Linked DNA regions of Homo sapiens. The protein of the gene in region 1 interacts with the protein of each later gene in a biochemical or structural test. Each region holds a gene or a part of one and is shown on either strand. Other genes may lie near its edges. The genes, in order: HTRA3, PPFIA1, RNF146, CD226, RAPGEF2, ATP2A2 and PLXNB1.

The links.
Region 2: the proteins of HTRA3 (region 1) and PPFIA1 interact in a test that uses a peptide from one of them, tested with the Homo sapiens proteins (one large-scale study listed by IntAct).
Region 3: the proteins of HTRA3 (region 1) and RNF146 interact in a test that uses a peptide from one of them, tested with the Homo sapiens proteins (one large-scale study listed by IntAct).
Region 4: the proteins of HTRA3 (region 1) and CD226 interact in a test that uses a peptide from one of them, tested with the Homo sapiens proteins (one large-scale study listed by IntAct).
Region 5: the proteins of HTRA3 (region 1) and RAPGEF2 interact in a test that uses a peptide from one of them, tested with the Homo sapiens proteins (one large-scale study listed by IntAct).
Region 6: the proteins of HTRA3 (region 1) and ATP2A2 interact in a test that uses a peptide from one of them, tested with the Homo sapiens proteins (one large-scale study listed by IntAct).
Region 7: the proteins of HTRA3 (region 1) and PLXNB1 interact in a test that uses a peptide from one of them, tested with the Homo sapiens proteins (one large-scale study listed by IntAct).

Annotation. Positions count from the first base shown.
Region 1 is NC_000004.12:8,286,754-8,290,253, forward strand, and holds part of HTRA3 (serine protease HTRA3 isoform 1 precursor), read left to right. Parts: coding exon 1-30; intron 31-3,500. UniProt on the Homo sapiens protein: Serine protease that cleaves beta-casein/CSN2 as well as several extracellular matrix (ECM) proteoglycans such as decorin/DCN, biglycan/BGN and fibronectin/FN1.
Region 2 is NC_000011.10:70,326,190-70,329,689, reverse strand, and holds part of PPFIA1 (liprin-alpha-1), read right to left. Parts: intron 3,429-3,500; coding exon 3,327-3,428; intron 3,094-3,326; coding exon 2,872-3,093; intron 2,591-2,871; exon of another isoform or gene 2,436-2,590; intron 1-2,435. UniProt on the Homo sapiens protein: May regulate the disassembly of focal adhesions. May localize receptor-like tyrosine phosphatases type 2A at specific sites on the plasma membrane, possibly regulating their interaction with the extracellular environment and their association with substrates.
Region 3 is NC_000006.12:127,269,864-127,273,363, forward strand, and holds part of RNF146 (E3 ubiquitin-protein ligase RNF146), read left to right. Parts: intron 1-3,500. UniProt on the Homo sapiens protein: E3 ubiquitin-protein ligase that specifically binds poly-ADP-ribosylated (PARsylated) proteins and mediates their ubiquitination and subsequent degradation. May regulate many important biological processes, such as cell survival and DNA damage response.
Region 4 is NC_000018.10:69,853,874-69,857,373, reverse strand, and holds part of CD226 (CD226 antigen isoform a precursor), read left to right. Parts: 3' UTR 1-3,500.
Region 5 is NC_000004.12:159,354,579-159,358,078, forward strand, and holds part of RAPGEF2 (rap guanine nucleotide exchange factor 2), read left to right. Parts: intron 1-1,274; coding exon 1,275-1,580; intron 1,581-3,500. UniProt on the Homo sapiens protein: Functions as a guanine nucleotide exchange factor (GEF), which activates Rap and Ras family of small GTPases by exchanging bound GDP for free GTP in a cAMP-dependent manner.
Region 6 is NC_000012.12:110,284,247-110,287,746, reverse strand, and holds part of ATP2A2 (sarcoplasmic/endoplasmic reticulum calcium ATPase 2), read right to left. Parts: intron 1-3,500.
Region 7 is NC_000003.12:48,427,287-48,431,284, reverse strand, and holds the start of PLXNB1 (plexin-B1 precursor), read left to right. Parts: upstream 1-1,198; 5' UTR 1,199-1,277; exon of another isoform or gene 1,278-1,532; intron 1,533-1,940; exon of another isoform or gene 1,941-3,998. UniProt on the Homo sapiens protein: Receptor for SEMA4D. Plays a role in GABAergic synapse development. Mediates SEMA4A- and SEMA4D-dependent inhibitory synapse development. Plays a role in RHOA activation and subsequent changes of the actin cytoskeleton.

The DNA.
Region 1 (3,500 bases):
GACATTGCCACCATCAAGATCCATCCCAAGGTGGGTGGGCGTGGGTGGAGGGGCGGAAGCACCTGGGGCTGGGCATGGTGGCCTCTTCCCAGACGCCGGAACCCAGAGGCAAGCTAGCCCCACCTTCCATCAGCCAGGGGGAGGAAACTGGGCCCAGGGAGGACTGGCAGCTGGCCCAGGGTCACGGCTTGGAAAAGACCTAGAACCCAGGTCTTTGGACTCCTTGTCCTGCGCTCCCTGAGCCGCTAGGTGCAGGGCAGAGCCAGGAAGCATGTGGCCCACAGTGGGTGGGCTGTGGTCCCATATCACACCCCACGGAGGCTCTTCACTGTCTTACCTGGGCCCACTACTGGGGATGCACCTGCCCCATGGGATGGCATCTGGGTTTGGGCGTGGAGGCCAGGGGGCTGCCGTGGGGAACACTTGGGACAGGGACCCCATCCCTCCACCTTCACGTCTGTACCTCCCACCAGCTGACCCAGAAGAGGCCTGCACTGAGGCCCCCAGAATCCTCTTCTTCCTCCACCGGCTGTTTCTGGAAGGCCTGCTCTCAGCCAGGCGCTGACTGCACTCCTCTAATTCTCACCACAGGCCTGGGAGGAAAGGGCCTGTATGAGTCTGTTTTCACACTGCTATAAAGAACTACCTGAGACTGGGTCATTTATGAAGAAAAGAGGGTTCGTTGACTCAGAGTTCTGTAGGCTGTACAGGAAGCATGACCAGGAGGCCTCAGGAGACATACAATCATGACGGAAGGCAAAGGGGAAGCAGGGACATCTTCTCATGGCAGAGCCGGAGAGAGAGAGAGTGAAGTGGGACATGCCACACATTTTAAAACCATCAGATCTCGTGAGAACTCACCACCATGAGAACAGCATGGGGGAAGTCTGCCCCCATGATCCCATCACCTCCCACCAGGCCCGTCCCCCAACACATGGGGATTACAATTTGACATGAGATTTGGGTGGCGACACAGAGCCAAACCATATCAGGGACCTCATTATCTTGGGATTTCAGACGGGGCAACTGAGGCTTGGAAGTTAGGTAACTCGTCCAAGATCACAGCGCACTGGAGCAGGGCTGGCCCGCTCAGCTAGGACCCCGGCCTCCCTCCAGCTTGTTCTTGTCTTGCCCAATGCCATGCTTATGTGACCCTGGGGACCACAGTTGAGTTACTTGCAGCTCCCCATGCCATGAGGTCACTGAGTCCCATGTCTCACACCAGCGTTGGACCCGGAGCTTCCCTTGGACTGGGAAGTTCACCTTGGCTGGTTTGAATTTGGCTTCCTCTCTTTCTGAATGAACGTTTACAGCATTTGTGATGAAATCTTTTGCAAGGGGGTTTCCTCTTGCCCCATCAAGGGAGAGGAGATTTAATGGTTCCAAGGAGTTCCCCTAATGGGGACCCTTCCCTGCTTTTCAGACTTTTCACGGTCGCGATTGAGTCTGGGGGCATCACCTCCATTTTAAAGTTAAGGAAACCCACTGAGGGGTGTGCTCACGGACAGGAGTTGGCAAATTTTCTTTTCTTTTTTTTGAAATGGGGTTTTGCCCTTGTTGCCCAGGCTGGAGTGCAATGGCGTCATCTCGGCTCACCACAACCTCCGCCTCCCGGGTTCAAGCAATTCTCCTGCCTCAGCCCCCCGAGTAGCTAGGATCACAGGCATGTGCCACCACACTGGCCAATTTTTTTGTATTTTTAGTAGAGACGGGGTTTCTCCATGTTGGTCAGGCTGGTCTTGAACTCCCAACCACAGGTGATCCACCTGCCTTGGCCTCCCAAAGTACCGGGATTACAGGCGTGAACCACCGTGCCTAGCCTTTTTTTTTTTTTTTTGAGACGGGTTCTTGCTCTGTCACCCAGGCTGGAGTGCAGTAGCAGGATCTCGGCTCACTGCAACCTCCACCTCCCAGGTTCAAGTAATTCCCCTGTCTCAGTCTCCCAAGTAGCTGTGACTATAGGTGCATGCCACCACCCTCAGCTAATTTTTGTATTTTTAGTAGAGATGGGTTTCACCATGTTGGCCAGGCTGGTCTTGAACTCCTGACCTCAGGTGATCCCCTGCCTTGGCCTCCCAAAGTGCTAGGATTACAGGAATGAGCCACTGCACCCCACCCCCAAATTTTCCTTCCTTCCTTCCGTCCGTCCTTCCTTCCTTCCTTCCTTCCTTCCTTCCTTCCTCCCTTCCTCCCCCTCTCTCTCTCTTTTTTTTTTTTTCAGGGTCTCGCTCTGTTGCCCAGGCTGGAGTGCAGTGGCACAATCACAGCTCACTGCAGCGTCAAACTCCTGGGCTTAAGGGATCTTCCCACCTTGGCCTTCCATATAGCTAGGACTACAGGCATGCACCACCATACCTGGCTAATTTTTAAATTTTTGGTAGAGATAGGGTCTCGCTGTATTGCCCAGGCTGGTCTAGAACTCGTGGGCTCAAGCAATCCTCCTGCCTCGGCCTCCCAAAGTGTTGGGATTACAGGTGTGAGCCATGGTGCCCAGCCAACAAATTTTCCATGAAGCCAAATGGTAAATATTTTATCTTTGCAAGCCCTGTGGTCTCTGTCACAACCACGCATCTCTGCTGTGGCAAAAATGCAGCCTTAGGCTGCACAGGTGGGTGTGGCTGCGTTCCAGTGAAGCTTGATTCACAAAACAGGCAATGGACAGCGTTTGGGCCTTGGGCCAGTTTGCAACCCCCGCTCGAGGACCCCTGTGGGAAGAGGAGAGCGAGACTAGGGGCAGGTCTGTCTCCCCTTCCGGCGGCTGTGGCAGAATGCTGGCAGGACTGGTGGGGTGGTATCCAGGTGGGCCTGAGCAGGACGCCCCACCAGCCACCTGTGGCAAATGGGTGCCAGCAGAGCTAGTGTGATTCATGTCCTGCAGGCCCTGGTCAGCACCCATGGCCATGAGCTGAGGTGGGAAACGCCCTCCTAGCCCCTAGGCATTAAATCGAGCCATGGGAAAGGCTCCTGACCCTCACCTGTGCCCCCTCCTTGGGTGCAGGGAGGATGGCTGACCCTCCCCAGCTCACGGCCTCACCTGTGCACCCTCCTTGGGTGCAGGGAGGATGACTGACCCTCCCCAGCTCATGGCCTCACCTGTGCGCCCTCCTTGGGTGCAGGGAGGATGGGCTGACCCTCCCCAGCTCATGGCCTCACCTGTGCGCCCTCCTTGGGTGCAGGGAGGATGGGCTGACCCTCCCCAGTTCACGGCCTCACCTGTGCACCCTCCTTGGGTGCAGGGAGGACGGGCTGACCCTCCTCAGTTCACGGCCTCCCAGAGATTTCAGACGTTATTTCTGCCTCTTCGGCCGGTCAGCAATGGAAAATGTCATCTCTCCGGGCCCTCACCTTCCAATGTGCAGGCCTGGTTCCGCCACCTGGCATTCTCTCTGCCATTGACTGAAGCTTCTTGAGCACAGAGAATAGAGGAGCGGCCTGAGTCTTTCCCACACCAGCGCCCGCCCACCAAGGGCTCCCGTAATCCTGTGCGGGGCTCCACGTCG
Region 2 (3,500 bases), on another chromosome or scaffold:
CTTTGGCCTCCCAAAGTGTTAGGATTACAGGCGTGAGCCAGTGTCCCTGGCCAAAAACATTTTAAAGAAACAAAAATTAGCCACGCATGGTGGCACGCCCCTGTAGTCCCAGGTACTTGGGAGTCTGAGACAGGAGGATTGCTCGAGTCCAGCAGTTCAAGGCTGCAGTGAGCTATGATGGCGCCACTGCACTCCAGCCTGGGTAACAGAGAGAGATCCTGTCTCAAAAATAAATAAATAAATAATAATGTCCTCAAAATTAAATTGATGAAGATGTCAATTTTCTCAAATGTGAATGAAAATGTAACTACCTCAAATACCATAAATATTCACCTATACGATTAACAAAGACTTGTCTCTCTTAATACTATGTCTGGCCACTCAGTTGACCAAGCTTTCCTGTTTCTACATAATATTATAAAAATATATACACTCAAATATCTAAATATTTTTCAAGGAGGTGAAAGTGTCCTCAAAGAAGACGCAGTCTACGTCTGCCTCACGCTACAAATGGTCTCACACAGGACAGGGTGCGGCCTCTCTCAGTGGACACAGTAGTGAGATACAAGTCTCACTTTCTAGGATAAGGGTTGGATGAACTCTCATACAATTACAAGACTCAAGCATATTGACAAATGGAAACAGAAGTACCAGTTTAATTTAATTGGATGCAACTACCTGAAGTCTACAAGATGATTACTATACAGTTTCAAACACTTAAGGCTAGGACCAGAACTTTTTGCTTGAGAAATACCTGTCCTCCACCCCCAGAATTCACTATTTTCAAGTTGTTCCCTATTTATAAAATGACTAAAGTTAGCAAAGTCTAAATATTACAAGTGATAGGGGAAAAAAGCTCAACATCACCGATTAGACAAATGCCAATCAAAACCACAATGAGACAGCATCTCACACCAGTCAGAATGGCTATTGTGGAAAAGTCAATCAGTAACAGATGCTGGTGAGGTTGTGGAGAAAAAGGAATGTTTTCCTGCTCTTGGTGGGAGGGTAAATTAGTTCAACCATCGTGGAAGACAGTGTGGAGATTCCTCAAAGACCTAAAGATGGAAATACCAACCCAGAAATCCCATTACGGGGTATATACCCAAAGGAATATAAATCGTTGTATTATAAAGACACACGCACACGTATGTTCACTGCAGCACTATTCACAACAGCAAAGACAAGGAATCAACCTAAATGCCCATCAATGATAGACTCCATAAAGAAAATGTGGTACGTATACACCATGGAATACTATGCAGCCATAAAACAGAATGAGATCATGTCCTTTGCAGAGACATGGATGGAGCTGGCGGCCATTATCTTTAGCAAACACAGAAACAGAAAAACAAAATACCTCATGTTCTCACTTATAAGTGGGAGCTAACTGATGAGAACACAGGGACAGACAGAGGGGAACAACACACACTGGGGCCTATCAAAGGGTGGAGGGTGGAGGATAGGAGGAAGAAGAGGATCAGGAAAAATAACTAGGCTTGGTACCTGGGTGATGAAATAATTTGTAAAACAAACCGCCAGGACACAAGTTTACTTATGTAACAGACCTACACGTGTACCCCAAACTTAAAAGTTAAAATAAAAAATTAAAAAATAAAAGTGATAGGTCTTAAAAGAATTTCAAAATTCTCTGCATATTAATCTCTGCCACATAATCTCCTGCTGTAGCCAAAGAATAGAACCTTAGGTGACATACTACATGCAAATGTTCTTCCTGTGGTGAATTCCTACATGAAATTACTCAACGTCAAACTACCAAACTGAAAAGCAGACATTCAACGGTTGAGGCGCCTGACAAGGGACAAAGCGCAGGTTAGAAAGTGACAGGAAGGGCACCTGAGAAAGCACTCAGCCTCACTGTTTCATGATCAAATAGTTTCTCTCTTTTTTTTTTTTGAGACGGAGTCTCGCTCTGCCGCCCAGGCTGGAGTGCAGTGTCCCGATCTCGGCTTACTGAAAGCTCTGCCTCCTGGGCTCACGCCATTCTCCTGCCTCAGCCTCCCGAGTAGCTGGGACTACAGGCGCCCGCCACCACGCCTGGCTAATTTTTTTGTATTTTTTAGTAGAGACGGGGTTTCACCGTGTTAGCCAGGATGGTCTCGATCTCCTGACCTCGTGATCCGCCCGCCTAAGCCTCCCAAAGTGCTGGGATTACAGGCGTGAGCCACCACGCCCGGCATTCATGATCAAATAGTTTCTCACAGTTATAATGGCAGAAATATTTGTCAGCAATGAGTATATTGTGACATATTTTTGCTATACGATCCTGATGACCCATGTAGAAGCAAATTCCACTCTTGATTGTTTGACCATTAATATTCAACGCCACAAATTCCTTGAAGGAGCAGGTCAGAAAATGAGAAGACCGCCAGCAACGCCCCCTCCCACAGTTAAGAGACTATACTCACATTGCCCTACGTGAGCTAGCACAGCCAGTATCAATATCTGCTTGCTAAGTATGTGTGCAACAGAAGGCAATCTGAACATAAGAACAAATTAAGACAGCCTAGAAATTGCACAGATGAAGAATCTACAAACAAGGACATTAAAGAATATTAAAGCAGCACAGGTAGGAGAGGCCAGTGTGGCGTCCACTTCATGGCCATGTCAGTCAGTGGGACTAGTTCTCTACTTTGAAGAGCTCAGGGACAGGAGATTTCACAACAAAAATGGGGAGGTAGCTTATGGCAGTTTCACAGCACTCTCTCTTTTTCAATATAACTTATACAATAATCCAAAGGTTGAAAGTAATTGGGAGAGTAAGAGACAAACAGAGAAAAAAAATCATTTAACTAAAACGTCCCAAACATACAACTTCATGACAAGACTGTAGTTTTTGTTATTGCTCACTTCACGGACATCTCGTTGCAATTTTGTGTTCATTTCTTCAGATTTGATGAGATCTTTTCTAGCCGTGTCCAGATCCTCTTCCAGTTCTGTCACATGACTGGAAAGGGAAGCCAGGCGTTCTTTCATTTGGCTCTGTTCCCTTGACTGCTTACTTATGATTTCTTGGAGCTCAATTACTTTAGCAAGGTCTTCCTCGTGGCTTAAAGAACCATCAGAAGATCTCTGATAGGGGGAAAAAAAAATCCTTAAATACCCTTGTTTGGTGAGCTATAAAATAAAAATACTTCCAGGAAATAGCTAAAATCAAAACTGACTTATGCAATCTGTTGGATTACACAACTTTCATGACCACTTCAGCTCTAAGCCGGTACTTTAGCAACTGTTTTCCACATAACCCGACACATACTGTGAACAAATGAAATCAAACAGAATAAAGACAAAGCCTACAGACTTGCCTTTCCACTCGTGCTTGGTGTATTTTCTTGTTCATGGTTTATGTCCAGCACTCCATCTGTTAGAGTTTTTTTCTGATTATTCTGTTCTTTAAGAATCATTAGCTGAAAGCAAAAAATTGAATATGAGTGTAAAATACCTTACATAAGAGAAATAAGTAAAGATAGCAAAACTCC
Region 3 (3,500 bases), on another chromosome or scaffold:
GATTTCATGTAGAACATTTACTGTTTTGTGTATTTTGAATAAATGGCAAAAATCTTATTAAACATTAGCTGTTAATAATTAGAAAAATACAGTAAGTCTTCAAATATTTATAATTGATATTTGTCTTTGTTTTTATATGTATTTATATTGATGTTATATGCTCATCTTTTTCTTTGATTAAAGATAATCGCTTGCTTGAATCTATTACCTGAAAAAAACTCTTGACTTTGATCTTGTGACTGACTTGAAAAGTGGGAGTATGAGTATTTTGAGTTGTTACAAATTATAAATGGTACAATATTACTTCATTTTTAGTTGTATTTATTTTTCACTTATTTGAATGGGTCAAGATTTAAATTCATTGATAATCCCTAAACCCCTTTGTGTATTTTTAAGTTTTACCTGTCACTGTTTTTTTCCTCCAGAATTGTTAGGGGCAAAGTATCTAATTTGGTTTTAGACTTTTTCTTTTTTTTATGTTACCTTCTTCATACATCATCATATTAAGTTTGGTGTAAAATTTACAGGTCATTCATTCCAGTAGGAATTATGTATGTTTGAGTTATTTATGTTTGGCAAATTAATTCTGGCCTGTAGTTGAAATCATACTGTTCTGTTTTACATCCCCCTATTGGTTAAAATAAAAGCATCCCTTCTCCTCCAACTTTAAAAAAACTTTGGTTTCAAATAATGTGGGAGTTTTCTGAGGGCTTCTTCACATGATTGTTATAAGTATTACATGTATGCCCTATTTTGTGCCCAGTTGAAATTATAGTTGACCATTGAACAAAGGTTTGAACCGTGTAGTTCCACTTATACAATACTTTTTTTTTCTGCCCCTGCCACCCCTGAGAGAGCAAAACCAATGTTTCTTTCTCGTCCTCCTGAAAAAGATGAAGGCCTTTATGATGATCCATTTCTACTTAATGAATGTAAACATATTTTTCTTCCTTATGATTTTTTTTTTTTTTGAGATGGAGTCTTGCTCTGTCATTAGGCTGGAGTGCAGTGGTGCGATCTTGGCTCACTGCAACCTCCACCTCCCAGATTCAAGAGATTCTCCTGCCTCAGCCTCCCAATTAGCTGGGACTACAGGTGTGCGCCACCATGCCCAGCTAATTTTTGTATTTTTAGTAGAGACGGGGTTTCACCATGTTGGCCAGGATGGTATTGATCTCTTGACCTCATGATCTTCCTGCCTCAGCTTCCCAAAGTGCTAAGATTACAGGCGTGAGCCACCGCACCTGGCCTCCTTACGATTTTTTAAATAATGTTTTCTTTTTTTTAGTTTATTGCAAGAAAACAATATATAATACAACATACAAAACATATATTAATCCACTGTTTATGTTATCAGTAAAGCTTCCAGGCAATAGTAGACTATTAGTAGTTAAGTTTTTGGAAACTCAAAAGTTTACATGGAATTTTGACTGCGCAGGGTGTAGACATTCTTAACTCCTCACATTGTTCAAGGGTCAACTGTATAAATTCTGAGAGTTAATAGGTGATGGGTCAGTTTGGCAGAATTGGGGCTACCTAAACCCATTAACTTTGATTATAACAGAATATGCAGTTTTCTTTTTTAATGTGTCTTCGGCAAAAGTCTAGGTAAATTAACATTGAATTCATTGTCTCTATTAAACAATTCCTGTAGTGACTTGTCAGTTTTGTATTTAACAAGATTAATATGCAAGACATTCTAGACCAGCATTGCCCAGTAAAGTAGCCACTAGCCACATGGAGTTATTGAGCACTTGACATGTATCCAGTCTGAATTAAGTTGTGCTGTAAGTGTAAAATACACACTGGATTTCAAAGAAGTATGCATACGCTTACCCAAGAACATAAAATATTACATTAACAATTTATATTGAAACATACTGAAGCAGTAATGTAGAAACGTTGGATTAAATAAAATATATTATTGAAATTAATTTTACCTGTTTCTTTCTATTATTATTTTTGTAGAAATGGGGGTCTCACCATCTTGCCCAGGCTGGTCTATAACTCCTAGGCTCAAGCCATCCTCCTGTGTCACTACCCACAAAGTGCTAGGATTACAGATGTGAGGCACCATGCCCTGCCTCTTTTTATTATTAATGTGGCTAATAGAAAATTTGAAATTGCATACGTGGCTTGCATCATATTTCTATTAGATAATACGTGACCTTTTCTGTGAGAGACAATACATTGTAGAAAGACATTTTTAAAGGTAAATTTGAATTTGAATCGCATCTCCCAATATTGATGGCTTTGACTTTGGGTAAGTCATTTAACTTCCTGAGCTTAGGCTTCCTCATTTGTGAAATAGGTATAGTCATATTTCACAGGGTTGTTTTGAGGATTCAGTGACATATGGATTTGGTAGTGTTTCACTAACTAATATATGTGAATCACTTGGAGATCTGGTTCTGTAGGTCTAGGGTGGCACTTAGGATTTTCATTTGTGAAGAGCTCCCAGGTAGTGCTGATAGTACTAGTTGGGAATCCCAGTTTGTTTGTATAGCTAGGATCTAGAGCATTATGTTAGTTTTAATTCATTTTCCTTCCCCAGCATTTATCCAGTTAGTCTGCACTTTGAAAAAATTATTCATGAGGATATAGAAATTGAAAAAGTCACCAAAGCATGCAAGATTTACTAAAATTATATGAACTGTGGACTCTTAGGGCTGCTGTAGGATTCCTGTTTACATCTGTTAAGTTTTTTGTCTGCTTTTATCTGGAGTCACTTTTATTGGTTGCATAAGATGGCTAAATCTCAGCCAAGAAGAACCTGGTTGTGTTGTTCTACGCAAATGTATTTTTGAAAGATAATGCATAATGAGAGGTGAAATAAAAGAATGCTCAAAGACAATAAGAGGGCAGTACAATTGACCCTTGAGCAACATGGGGTTAAGGGTGCCAACCCCTTGCACAATTGAAAATCTGAGTATAAGTTTTGACTTCCCCAAAATTTAACTACTAATAGCCTACTGTAAAGTCAGTTAACACGTTGTTTGTTATATGCATTACATACTATATTCTTACAATAAGCTAAAGGAAAATAAATTCCTAAGGAAGAAAAAATACATTTACAGTACTGCATTTACCGATACTGTGTTTATGTTACCTGTTTATAAGGTGTCTGTCTGAAATGATGGGTAACTGCAGCTGCAGACCCATCTAGGGTGTGTACCAGGTAATTTAACTTCTTGTAATGGCATGACTTCTTGGCTTCTTGGGAGCACTTCTAGCATCACTAGTGGCACTTCACATGGGTCCCATGGTGTTATTCAAGGTTTATGGTATTGTACTAAACATGATGAAAAATACACAAGAACAAGAGATTACATTTTACTCCAATACATGCAGAGATGATTAGTGTCCACAGCATTTTAAGTGGAAATTCATAATAGCAACAGGAAATTATTACAGTATGTACTACAATTAATTTTATACAGCTATGATTCATACTGCATCTTTACATTTGTTTAAATTTCTTGTACCACCTCAAGTGGCAC
Region 4 (3,500 bases), on another chromosome or scaffold:
GTTGAGCTGATTTATCCCACACTTTATTTTTATCGTATAATGGTCCTCAGAAGCAAATTTTGATTTTAGCTCACATAAAAAATGTACAAAGAAATGTAATGGCTCAGTAGCTTCTAGAGATAGAGATTACTCTTCTAACCTTTCTGTAATTTTGTATGTCTATTTTATAATTCTTTCAATGTCTAATGAATAGCTATCTTTTTTTGAGACGGAGTCTCGCTCTGTCGCCCAGGCTGGAGTGCAGTGGTGCGACCTCGGCTCACCGCAAGCTGCGTCTTCCAGGTTCACGCCATTCTCCTGCCTCAGCCTCCCGAGTAGCTGGGACTTCAGGCGCCCACCACCATGCCCAGCTAATTTTTTTGTATTTTTAGTAGAGACGGGGTTTCACCGTGTTAGCCAGGGTGGTCTCGATCTCCTGACCTCGTGATCCGCCCGCCTCGGCCTCCCAACGTGCTGGGATTACAGGAGTGAGCCACCGCGCCCGGCCTCCTTAGTTTCTTAAGGTGGAAGCCTAGATTATTGATTTTATATGTTGTTTTCTTTTCCAATAGTGGCACTTAATGCTATAAATTTCACTTTGTTCCACAAGTTTTGGTAAGCTCTATTTTTATTTTCATTTAGTCCAAAATATTTTAAAATTTCTTTTGATATTTCTTCTTTGAGCCATGAATTATTTACAATGTGTTGTTTAATCTCTATATATTTTGGGATTTTTCTACTTTATATCTCTTACAGATTTCTAACTTAATTTCATCATGTTTTAAAAACATTCTTTGTATAATTTCTATTCTTTTAAATTTTTCAGGTGTATTTTATGGCCCAGAATATGGTCTATCTTGTAGAATGTTTCATGTGATCTTAAGAAGAATGTTCATTCTGCTGTTGAGTGTAATATTCTACAAATGTCCATTAGATTAAACTGATTGATACCACCGTTCAGATTATCTATATCCTTTCTGATTTTCCCTCTTCTTGATCTATCACATACTGACAGATCAAGTGATCAAGTCTCGTTAAAGACTGCAAGTAAAATAGTGGATTTTTCTATTTCTCCTTGCAGTTTTGTTAGTTTTTGTCTCATGTATCTTGATACTCTTGTTAGTACATATACTTTCAGAATCGTTAGGTTTTCTTGGAGAATTGACCCCTTTACCACATGTAATGTCCCTTTTATTCTTGATAATCTTTCTTGTTCTGTCTGCTTTTTCTGATATTAACATAACTTTCAGTTTTTTAAAAAATTAACATTAGCATCTCACATCTTTATCCTTTTAATTTTAAATTATCTAAATATTTATATTTAATGTGCCTTTCTTATAGACAATGTATAGTTGCGTCTATTTGTAATTTCCCCACTTTTCTTACTTAAAAATGTTGTAGATATATAGGAGTTGTATATATTTGGGGGGTACATGTGATGTTTTGATACCTGTATACAATATGTAATGATCATATTGGGTAATCGTGATATCTGTCACCTCTAACATTCATCTTTTTTGTGTGTTTAAACCCACCACTTCTAATTGGTACATTTAGATTATTCAAATTTAAGTGATTATTGATATAGTTGGATTAATATCTACTATGTTTGTAACTTTTCTATCCTTGCACTCGTTCTTTCTTTTTTATCCTCCTTTTTCTGTGTTCTCTGATTTTAACTGGGGTTTTTACATGATTTAATTTTCTCTCGTGGCATATCTTTCATTGATCAACCTAGGTTTTTCTCCTTTTCCCCTCTTTTTTTTGGTATTTATTCTATTTAGTGTTATCTGAGCTACCTGAGTTGGTGTCTATCACTAATTTTGGCAAGTTCCCAGACGTTATTACTTCTAACATTCTTTTGCTCCATTCTTTCTTCTTCTTCAATTATTCCATAGTCTTGAATATTCTGGGTTTTTCCCACTCTTTGAATTTTAGTTTGAAAAGTTTCTATTGGCCTAGCTTCAAAGTCATTCATTCTTCCTTCGGGGTTCCAAGTCAACTGATAATTGCATCAAAGATATCCTTCCTTTCTATTACTATGTTTTTTATTGCTACCATTTCTTTTTTATTCCTTCTTAGTGTTTCCATCTTTCTTCTTACATTATCCATCTGTTGTCTATTTTTTTCATGAGAGCTCTTAACATATTAATGATAAGTTCCATGTCTGATAATTCTGACACGTGTCATGTCTCTATCTGGTTCCAATGATTGCTTTATCTCTTCAGACCATGACTTTTCTTGCCTTTTGACGTTCTTTGACATTTTTTTTGAATTTTTTGTTGCAAGCCAGATCTGGTGTGTTATGTAATAGGAACAGGTAAATAAGTCTTTAGCTTGCAGACTTATCTTAATCTGACTAACTATTAGACTGTGTTTAAAGTCTGTTATAACCATAGGTGCTAAATTTCTTCAAATTCCTCTAGTGTCTTTGTTTTGTTTGTTCATGTGTTTTTCCCCTTCTTGAGTTCAGGCTTCCCTAAGTGCTCCTCTTCAGAGAGACTTTCTGTCTTTCAGCTCTTTCCTCTGCAATTCACTGTTACTATACTGGAGCCCTGTTGGTGTAGTACTAAGCTGTGGGAAAGGAGAGTGCTCTGTAATCTTACAGTGAAATCTCAGTCTTTTAGTGGGTCTGTGTCTGGGACATTCACAGAGCTTCTCCAGTGGTATTGCTTCCTCATCCTCAACTCTCTTTCCTGGCTGCAGCATTCCCAATGTATTTCTTTGAAGGCCTGCCCCCTGTTGACTGTTATTTTCCCTCTTTCCTTAAGTGGGACAGGGAGACTTCAGGGGCTGGGATGAGGTTTGGGAATTGTGCTTGGCAGAGTCCTTTCCATCTTTGTTACCAAGAAGGTTCATGGCTTATTTCTCAATGGATGTCCCTCTCTATCTGTTGCCAGAGCCACGAGGAAATTTTTCTTGGATCCTCATAATGAGAACCTTGGAGTTTCCTACTGGAAAAGCCCTTGAATGTGTGGAGTGCCTCAAGAGCACAGCCCCCATGGGTTTCTTGCTCACACCAGTCCACAAACAGATGCCAGCAATTCACCCAACTTACCATATAAAGGCTCATACTAGTTTATGGCTCCAGTGCTTTGACTCCAGATAAATGGCTATTGGTTGCGTATCTCTCTGGATGTATCTGTATCTCCAGATTTTGGGGTGGCAGTTTGCTCAGGACCTTGGTTCTCTAATAGGTCTAATAAGAAAAGTCATTGATTTTCAGCTTTCCAACTTTCCAGCTTTGTCTTGTTATAAGCATGGCAGCAACATCTTCCATGCCTTAACATGATGACACTAAAGGCAGAAGTCGATCTCCATGTATAAACATTTTAACACATATGTTTTTTGTTATCGTGGTTTCTGACCTGTCTCTTTGCCCTGACTTTCTGATACTGCACTAGGGTTCCTGTTGCTGGACTCCATTCCATATGACTTGCTCTCGTCTAGGCTGCTCTTTGGCTCATCTTTATAAATCATGATCCAAAATGAAGCACATATTTATTTTTTAAATAAATATG
Region 5 (3,500 bases), about 150 Mb from region 1:
ACGGGTTTAGGAGTCAGGCGGACTGGGGATTGAATCCCTGTTTTGCCACTTTATTAGTTTTGTGACATTGGGTAAAATACAAAACAGTGCCTGTTTCCTCATCTGTAAAATGAGCTTCATAATTTCTACTTAATGGAGTTAGTGTGAGGATTCAAGGAAATTTATGCAAAGTATTTAGAACAGTGCCCAGATAGTAGATTCACTAAGTACATGAAAGCTATTGCTGCTGCTGTTCCTGTTAGAAGAGGCTCTCATGCGCCCTCAGTCCTGTTGAGATGTGTTTTCTATGGCACAATTAACATCTATATAGACGAAGTGTAGGAACAGATGATAGGTTGTAGAGTGAGAAATTCTGGAGTATAATCATTACGGACATTACTTTTATTAGTAGGAAAATTGTAGTTATTTAGCCATGTAAATAGTCATGGGTAGATTTCAAGTTTAATATCCTTTTACAATGAATAAGGAGAAAACAGTTAATAAATATTCTTAGGTTGGACTTTTTCAAGTGCTTACAACTAATACTCAGAATTTTTATTGCAAAGGAAGGAAGAATGATTTTTAGTTCCTAACAATTGAGTTTTAAAAGTTCAAGAAAATGAAACTTTAGTTTTACTGGCCTATACAGGTTTCATATTCTAGGTCATGAGCATCAATAAAGGGATTTTAAGAAAAATAGACACCTTATAGTAATAGTTTTAGAATTTTTAAATTGGTATCCTTTGTGCGACTTTTCCAAATTTATTTTAATTCACTGTTTCTGTAAGTGAAGTCTTGAGACCCGAGAGTGATGTAGAATTGCTTCTCTGCCTGGTAAAGATAAATGCCCAGAAAGAGGGCAGATCCGGCAGGCAGAGAGGAAAAAGGGAACTTGTACCAAGCACAAACAGGTTCTAGGCATAGTGCTGTGTACTTAGGTTCTTCCTGTGCTTCAGTCTTTCCAATAAATCCAGGGGTTAGGTTTTAATCTTACTATTTTATAGTTACAGACCATTTTAAATGGACAAGCAGCCCATTTAAAGATAAAAGTACTTAGATGGACTAGCAGCTTCTCTCACCAATTATTTCACCACACAAAGATAACATCATTGTGAAATTTGGTTTAGTTAACATGCATTCCCTGGCCTGCCTCACACCGCACCTCTAACCGATACCATGCAAATGCACATCTGCTGCTACACTGTGGATGCTGTTTTAGTAATTATTTTTATATTTTTAATAAACTTTTGTGGCATGAACTAGTTTTTAATGCTGGTGCATTGTTTCTACTCTAGCACGAAAGGAGGGCAGGTATCGAGAGCCCCCGCCCACCCCTCCCGGCTACATTGGAATTCCCATTACTGACTTTCCAGAAGGGCACTCCCATCCAGCCAGGAAACCGCCGGACTACAACGTGGCCCTTCAGAGATCGCGGATGGTCGCACGATCCTCCGACACAGCTGGGCCTTCATCCGTACAGCAGCCACATGGGCATCCCACCAGCAGCAGGCCTGTGAACAAACCTCAGTGGCATAAACCGAACGAGTCTGACCCGCGCCTCGCCCCCTATCAGTCCCAAGGGTTTTCCACCGAGGAGGATGGTATATGCACATAAATATTCCTAAAACCTCCAAGTTAGATGTGTTCACTTGTGCTGCTTCCCAAGGCATTTCTGTTCTCTTAACACTGCAGTCAGCTATGTCTAACCATATACTACACAAAGTACACTACATTCAGAGTTCCAAATTTAGGGTTACAGCTGTTGACTGCTTTCTTTTGTGTGTGTGTGTGTGTTTCCTTAAATGGCTTTAAAAATGCCAAAGATTATGGAGGGAGTCACTTAAAATACAGTGTGTATATAACTGGTTTTCTTCTCCAATTCTCACTAAAATTTGATTGCTTTCTGTGTGTCTGTGTATGTGTGTTTCCCTAAATGGCTTAAAAAATCCCAAAGATTATGGAGGGAGTCACTTAAAATACAGTGTTTATATGACTTGATTTCTTTTCTAATTCTCGTTAAAATTGAAGTACTTCTGTGACCCTATTTTAAGAAAAAGAATAGGCCAGGTGCGATGGCTTACACCTGTAATCCCAGCACTTTGGGAGGCTGAGGAGGGCAGATTACTTGAGCTCAGGAGTTTGAGACCAGCCTGGCCAAAGTAGTGAAACCCTGTCTCTACTAAAAATACAAAAATTAGCCGGGTATGGTGGCAGGCACCTGTAATCCCAGCTGCTCGGGAGGCTGAGGCAGGAGAACCACTTGAGCCCGGAAGGCAGAGGTTGCAGTGAGCCAACAACATGTCACTGCACTCCAGCCTGGGTGACAGAGTGAGACTCTGTCTCAAAAAAAGGAAAAGAAAATGAAAATTTCACAAGTTTGTGCTGTTGTCAAGAATTTTAGAAGCATGTAGGATTCTCAAAGGTGGATGGTTAAAGTTTTCTGTGGAAACATTATATTTGCGCTTTTAATGAATTGGGACTCATTTGGAAATGAAAGTCTGATAAAGAAAGATACATTATCAGCCAGCCTGATGGCTCATGCCTGTAATCCCAGCACTTTGGGAGGCTGAGGTGGGAGGATTGCTTGAGGCCAGGAGTTCGAGACAAGCCTGGGCAACATAGTGAGACCTGTCTCCATAAAAATATTTTTCAAATGACCCAGGCGTGGTGGCGTGTGCCAATAGTCCTAGCTACTATGGAGGCTGAAGTGGAAGGATCACTTGAGCCCAGGAGTTCAGGGCTGTGGTGACCCATGATTGTGCCACTGCACCGTAGCCTAGGTAGCAGAGCAAGACCCGGTCTCTAAAAGAAAGAGAGAGAGAAGGGGAGGGAGAAAGGGAAGGAAGGAAGGAACCCACATTCTTTATAACTCTTTGTGCGTTCTTTCTACAAATCTATCTGACCATGCTGAATTGAGAATGAGGAAGGAGAACATGGCCTCCCATCTTCTTTAAAGTTTTCAGTTTAACATGTTTGATTACACAATCATAGAAAAAAGCAACACGTGACTGGGAGATTGGGAGGCCGAGGCAGGAGAATCGCTTGAGCCCGGGAGGCGGAGGTTGCAGTGAGCCGAGAACACTGCACTGTGGATGGCAAACCCACACCCTGTCTCAAAAAAGTTAAATTAAATTAAATAAATAGAAAAACATTACAAATGAAAATTACTTAAAATCCTGTCACTTGCAGATAGCCACTATTAAAATGTTGTTATATATTCTAGACTTTTTATGTGTATCTGATCGTATATTTTTTTTAAATGGCACATGCTATTTTACAACTTTTTAAAATGAATTTAACAACTTTCTGAACAAAAATATATAATGCATATCTTTTTAATATTGTGTGTATATATGTAAAGATATGTATTGCATACATTTTAACCTTTTTGTTGTTCGTCATTGTTTAGGAAAAAAAGACAAGGATTCTAAGTGAGCTATACTAAAAAGAATAACTATGATAGTTTTATTTAGCACATCAGTGAATATATTCTCTATAGCACAAGAAATTACTTGCTTGCT
Region 6 (3,500 bases), on another chromosome or scaffold:
GCTACTCGGGAGGCTGAGGCAGGAGAATCACTTGAAGCTGGGAGGTGGAGGTTGCAGTGAGCCAAGATCGCACCACTGCACTCCAATCTGGGCGACAGAGCAGGACTCCGTCTCAAAAAAAAGACAGCGAAAAGGTAACAAGCTTCATGAACAGCAGCAAAGAAAAGTAAAAGAGAAGACCACTGCCCCATAGTTTTGGACATAAACAGTGTTTCTTCTTCCCTTTGCTTTGTGCTAAATACAATAATACCTGTCTTCTGGGACATACATTATCAAACAAGTTCAATGCTTCAAATGTGCCAGTATTATTCAAAGTAACCACTTGCTAATGAACACTCAACTACATTAAACTGTTAAAAATAGAGTAGGGATAGAGTATCTCCCAATTATTATCCACAAGATTAATCTCTGTACAGCACTGAAATACTGTACAACACTCTGTACTGCATTATACTTCTGATAAGTATACTAAAGCAAAAAAAAAATTTTTTTTTGAGACGGAGTCTCACTTTGTCACTCAGGCTGGAGTGCAGTGGCGCAATCTCGGCTCACTGCAACATCCGCCTCCCGGGTTCAAGCGATTCTCCTGCCTCAGCCTCCTGAGTAGCTGGGATTACAGGGACCCACCACCACGCCTGGCTAATTTTTGTATTTTTAGTACAGGTGGGGTTTCACCATGTTGGCCAGGCTGGTCTCGAACTCCTGACCTCAAATGATCCACCCACCTCGGCCTCTCAAAGTGCTGGGATTACAGGCATGAGCCACTCACTGCACCCGGCCAAATAAAGCAAATTTTAATCCAAGGTAAAAAGCACGTTCTGCTGTAAACTGGGAGACAGTCATGATATTGTGACTCAGATATCTATACACTGTGATAATAGGAAGAGCTCTTAGTATCATAAAAAGAAAACGAAAGAAAAAAGTGCTTAAAAAGATCATAAGCACATTTTGCTCCTAGTATTCTCAGAAACTTGCACTGTGCCTTTGGGCCCTCAAACAATTGCTCAATAAATGAAGAAATTTACATCAAGTTTTTTTTTTTTTTTAAATAAAGAGGAAATGGAAATTAAACATTTCGAGAATGATACAGAGAATTACCAATAAACGTTACGATAATTTCTGGGGGAGGACTTTCAGTCATTAATAAAACGGAAAAAAAAGCATGAATTAGAACTCGTTCCCTTCTGATCCAGATATAAAGCTATGTAAAAACATTCAATGCTTTCAGGCATGAGAAAACAATCTTTTTAAAAAGTACTCTATTAAATCCACCTTTCAAGTCATTATTTTAAGAAAAGCTCTGAATAAACTAGTTAAACCAATCAGTAATTTGCCCTTCTTATCCCATTTTTAAAATCAAAAATTAAAAGATACAGAAGAAAATTAAAATCACTACAAATCCAGTATCAAATGCTTTGAGTATTCTCTTCTGAGAAACTACAGTAAAAAGATCTCATGTATTTTCAGAAAATTCTACTGAAACAAACTCACCCAAGTTTTTGTGACATCAAAAGCACTAACTTAGGCCAGGCGCAGTGGTTCATGCCTGTAATCCCAGCACTTTGGGAGGCTGAGGCAGGTGATAACCTGAGGTCAGGAGTTCGAGACCAGCCTGGCCAACAAAGGTAAACCCCATCTCTACTAAAAATACAAAAATTAGCCGGGCGTGGTGGTGGACATCTGTAATCCCAGCTACTCAGGAGGCTGAGGCAGGAGAATCACTTGAACCCAGGAGGTGGAGGTTGCAGTGAGCCGAGATTGCACCACTGCGCTCCAGCCCGGGCAACAAGAGTGAGACTCCATCTACATTTAAAAAAAAAAAAAAAAAAAAGCACTAACTCAAGGGGGTCTAGTAGGAAGAAAAGAGACACACACATGCAAATGGTCAAATGTAACCTAAAGGTTGAGAAGTACCACAGTCTAGAAAGTTTTATTAGCATTTTAGGGTCAATCTAAGTAGCTGACATGGGAAACGACGGTGGAAGGTAGAGAAACCTATGCAAATTATTACCATATTAATTATGACTTTATGATTTAGACAGATGGGAGACCAACATGGCCCTAATGCCCACCTCCTTCAGATCTTTTCGCAAATGTCACCTTCCTCAAGAACTTTCCGGACCACCCAATTTGAAAACTGTTCCCCCTTTCACATACTCTGATATCCAAACCCCCTTGCTTTATTTTTCTCAGCAGTATTATCCTCCAGGTAAGGGTCTCTGTCTGTTTTATTCACTACTGTATCCCCAGTGTCTGTGACAGGTGCTCAATAAATATCTTAACAAAGCAGGAAAAGAGAAGAAAGGGCAGGCATCAGTTAAGCAACCATACGATGTGTTACATTTAGAACAAAGTTGGTAATCAAGAAGAGAATGAAAAGATAAAGTGAATGATAGAGGGGGGGTCTTCAGTGTCAAATTAAGCAATTTCTAATGTTCATATGCACTGGAAGATGAAGCTTATTTCTTTCAATCCAAGTGACCGTTTCAAAAAAACACTTTGGCCAATATTACAAATTAAACTAGATCCCTACAGGTCACAAGCATAGCTTCCTATTCTATGCCACAGCAAAATATTAACTATAGTTAACAGTTTACTACTTAGTTTGATATTTGAAGTAAGTCACTAATATTCTTTTTAATTTAAGCATGACTTGATGACGCATGATGTATATAAGAATCGCCTAGTCACTTCTCCAAAAAAACCTGAATATTCTACCATGTTTTTTCTGTTACATCAATAGGAATAAACTGACACAAAAAGAGAGTCAGTGCTCTTTCTTTTAAAAGATACAGACAGGAGGAATGAAACACTAAAGACAATGCAGCAGCAGTACCCAACCCCACATGAAGAAAATCAACACAACAGGTCTTATATCTGCAATTCCTTGATCAAACAAACCAAAGCAAATTAATTCTATAGAAGTACTCCCTAAACACTTATTCTTTTGCTATTTACCAACTCATAAAATAAAAATGTAACACAGTTCATTTCCTGAGCAGTAACTCCACAGTTACCAAAAAGGAGCTCAAATTTCAACTCCAAAATATAGCTCTATAATGCTCCACAAAGCCAAGGTCCTATCTTATAAAAAAAATTAAAGCATTTATTTAAAAACCTGCTTGAAATGCTTACAAACTATAAGCCTCTAATTACTTCAAAGTAAAAAATGAACAAACAAAACCCACACACATCATTAATTTAAAATGCTAATATAAAGTCACTCAAACTGGCCACTCAAAAAACAGACCCAGTGCAACCCCAATAGTAACACCAGTGGCATGGTTTCCCACACTGCTTCAACTTGTAACACAGAGAATTCAGTAAAAATGTATTTTGCTTCTGGCTTGTAGTCAGCTGATTAATTTTTAAGAAGTTCCCAATGACCTTATCGGACCCCATTATTTAACTGCCAACGCTATTATGTACCCAGTTAAATACAAATCTTACACTAGCTCCAAATGTATCATTTATTTTGCCCCATGACAATGTATTGATAA
Region 7 (3,998 bases), on another chromosome or scaffold:
GTGTTCAGTCTTGGGCAGTGAGCATGGCCCAAATGCCCCCCACCCCAGGTTCTCAGCACCTGGTCCCTCAGTCAATCTATCCTTGGCGAGTAATGGCTCCCCAGAATGGCATGGGATGGAAAGACCCCTGTGCTTAGAGTGTTCACATTCCTTGTAGGGCAGGAGGTAGCGTATCTGTGTACAGATGAAAGGGGTTGTGGGGTTTGGAAGTCCCAGTTTCCTCTGGGGTGAGATAGGTCCTGAAGTGTGTGCTTGGATGAATGGATTTGGGGAGGGAGGGATTCTGTGCATGTGGAGGGGGCTGCTACAAGCTACATAGGCAGGAAAGCCAAAGTGGGTGAGGGACTGGGGCAGACTGTCCTGGCTGGGGTGGTGATGGGTGTGGGGGAGTTGTGCAGAATGATGTCACAGGCCCGGGGTGCCAGGTTGGCAGTCTGAGGTCAGAGGCTAAGGGTGAGGGATCCAGGGAGGGATTGCTATGCTGGTGCAGACAAGGTGCTAAGCACCTGGACTCAGGTGCTGGAAGTGGGAGTGGAGGAAAAGGGGTGACCTGACAGGAGACCCTTGATAGCTGGTGGGAGGTGGGAAGAGGGTGTCTCTAGCTCTAGGGCAGTAGCCAGTGTGGATGACCTGAACCTCCTGATTGAGGCTCCCCTAGCCTGTGGAGGCCTTGGAGGCTTTCAGATGATGCCTGTGACGTTTTTGCCTCCCAGGAAGCTGTGCCAATGGCTTTGAGCCAAAGTCCTCCAAAAGTCCTAATAGGATGGGCCAGGTTCTGGTCCTGAGTTAGCCGTGGGCATGCCAGGGTGTGAAGGGCCCTGCACAGGGTACAAATGGTCCCCAGGAGAGAACCTTTCTGCCAGCGTTTCCTCCCGCAGAAGGCCCAGGTGTTTGCCAGTGAGGGAGCCCAGACTTGCCCAACGCTTCTCAGCTTGGGGTGGGTCCAGGTCTGGGTCCTGGGCTGGGAAGAAAGGAAGGAAGTGAGCCCTTGCTTGTGCGCCTCTGCAGCCCAGGTTCCCTGCCTTCACAGCCCCGCTAGAGGTGGGATCACCCCCACTTACTGGTGAGCAAATAGGCTGGGGGGGGTTGGTGTCAGGTTACATGGTTTAGTTGATGGCGCAAGCCCAGGTCCAAAGCCCATGCTCTTCTCAAACAGCCAGAGGTGGGGGCCGGAAGGAGGGATTGGCTGTTGGGGAGTAGTGGGAGCAGGGGCGGTGAGCAGGGGCGGTGGGCAGGGCCAGGTGCGCAGGGGAGAAACAAGGCGCCTTGGAGTTCAGGTAAAGAAAGTTGGGGAGGATGACCACCGGAGCCGGGTAAGGAAGGGAAAGGGAGCTCCGGGCGCGGGGCGAGGCCGGGCGCTGGCAGAAGAACGGGTCGGGCTGGTGAGGGACTCGGGTGCTACCCGGCTCTGGACGGGCGGGAAGAGGCCGGGACGCTGTTCCACCAGCACCTGCGGGTGCGGAGCGCGACCCCCCGCCTCGGCTCCTGGCAACCAGGAAAGTTCCCAGTTCCGGTTCCAAGGAGGCGAGCAGGTGAGGCCGACGGGGCGGGGCGGCTCTGGCTCCCGGGGTTCACTCCTCACCCCTCCGGGCGACCCGCGTTGCCATGGCGACCGCCGCGGTGCAGCCCGCCCCCGCCCTCCCCCGTGCGGGAGGGGTCGGGTCCCCAGCCCTCGGCCGATGCGGAGCCCGCGGGGCTGGAATGCGGGGTCCCGGGCGGTTCGGGGCCGCGCGCCCGGCTCTCCGGGCTGCTTCCGGCCTGGCCCGGGCGGCGGGCGGGGGGAGGGCAGCCCGGCAGGCGAGGGGGAAGGAGCGGAGACGAGCCCGGCCGACGCGGCTTTGTCTCCTTTGTTCCCGGCGGTGGCAGCGCCGCGCGGGAGGGGCGGGCAGCGGGCGCAGTTTTCCGCCCCTCGGTCTCCGGGTAACAGCTGCGGCTCCGCCAGACCCGGGGAGAGGCCGCTGCGCGCGGAGCCCGAGCCCGGAGCGGCCGACGCCCGCCTCGGCGCGCACATCCCGCGGGGCCCGGCCGGGTGGTGAGTGCGGGGCTCGGGGCCAGGGCGGCGAGGAACGGGGCTCCCGAGGTGGAACGGGCCGGGGCCCCGATCCCGCCGGGCAGGGGCGGCCTGGGTGAGTGGTGGGCGGCTTTGGTTTTGAGAGTTGGGACCACACTTCTCCGCGCGAAGGGAAACTCTGGCGACTCCGCCTGGAACGCGATTGGGAGACTGAGGAGGTGGAGCTGCTCCTCCGCGCCCCCTCCTCGCCGTCGCCGCCGGGGACCGGCCGGCCCCTTCCCCGCCCTCCCAGGGCCAGTGATGGGGTCCTCGCCTCGGGGTCTGGGGGTTGGGGAGGGTCAAGGACGAGCCGAGTGGGGAGGTCGGGGCTTCCCCTCAGTAGTAACAGCCCTTTCTGGCTGCTCCCGGTGGGACTGACAAAGGCGGACCTCGAGCCTCCTGACCCCCGGGCGGGTGGGGGGGACCCTCCTCTCCACACACAGACATATTAAGTGGGTGATCGATGAGCGCCTTGGGTCATCGCAGGTGCCTGGTAAATGGTGGATCTCCCCACCCCTCCTCAACACACAGAAAACAGGGCGGGCAGCGGGCACCACTGCACTGTCAATGAATAACTCACCTCTGTAGTGAACCCTGGGAGCTGAGCAGGAGGGTGAAACGGGAAGGCCGGTTTCCCACTAACTGGCAGGCAAGGCAAATGTGGGCTGTCCTATGGCCCCTCTGCAGGTGCGGAATGGCGGGGTTTGTGAGCCCCTTTTGTTGTCGAGGACAGCTCCACGGGGGTCCGGGAGGTGCTTGCTCTACAGACAGAAGTTGGGCAGTCTTGCGCCCCCTGAAAAGGTTCAGAGTAGGGTGGCCCCAGAAGAGACTCCAGGGCATGTGTGGGGGAGCACTGGGCACAGGCAGAGTTAGGCTTTGGCTGTGAGTCTGAGCAGGGCCTCAGATATTGGGAATGGGCAGGAGATCCTGGCTGTGTAAGTTGGGGATGTGAGGTCTGGTTCTAGATCAGCCTTTTCAGTCTGCCCTGGCCTGGTCATTAATAAAAGTGGGGCCAATGTGTTCCCTTTGAGAGACCAAGTGGCTTGGAGGGATTGTGGGCCCCCTATCTCCCCTACTTGTTGGGTTTTCTTGGGTGTGAAATGGGGGTTCGTTCACCATACAGGGAGCATCTGGTCTGTGCTGAAGTCTGTGTAAGTTGCTGGGGCCTCTGAATCAGAAGCCATACTCCCTGCCTTCAAGGAGCTTCAAGTCCAGAGTAGGAGGGTGGAACAGGGAGAAAGGTGACCCTGGTTGGCATCACTAATGCCAGGCACACACTGTTTCATGTTTACTGGTCAGAGCAATCCTGCCTCCCATTGTACAACTAGGAAATCTGAGGCTCGGAAAGCCTGAGGCAGAGCGGCCGTGCCTGTCAGGGTGGTGGCTAGGTGTGTCCATTCTGTCCACCGCATGCAGCGGCCTCCTCAGGAGCCTGGGAGGACAGGGGAGGCTCCCCAGGGAGAGGATGGTTGGTGTAGGAGTTAATGGGATAGCGAGGGAGTGGGCATTCCAGGCAGCGGCAAGAGCCTGTGCAGCGGTTGGAGGAGCCAAGCAGCCTGCAGTTCAGGCTGGCAGGAACGAAGGGCATGTGTGGGGGAGCACTGGCATGGATCGGGTGGGAGAGGTGTGGACTGGAGGGGTAGGCCTTTATCCCTCCCGCTCTGGGGTGCCCCAGAGGCTCTTGGGGGAGGGGTGTACTCAATTCTGCTCAAGGAAAGTCCTGAGAAGTTGGGAGTTGGGAGGCTAGATTGGAGGGGCTGGGAGCTGCTCAGTGGCCTGTGGCAGAGATTAAGTGAAATCCATGTGCCTGAAATGGAGGAGAAAAAGTCACTGCTCTTCTTTCTGTCCTCCTTCCGACACCCATGGTATGTGTGGAGGGGCAAGGGGTGCTAGGTCCTGATTCACAGGGAGACTGCTGGCAGAAGCCTGACCACTTTCCCTGGAGTGG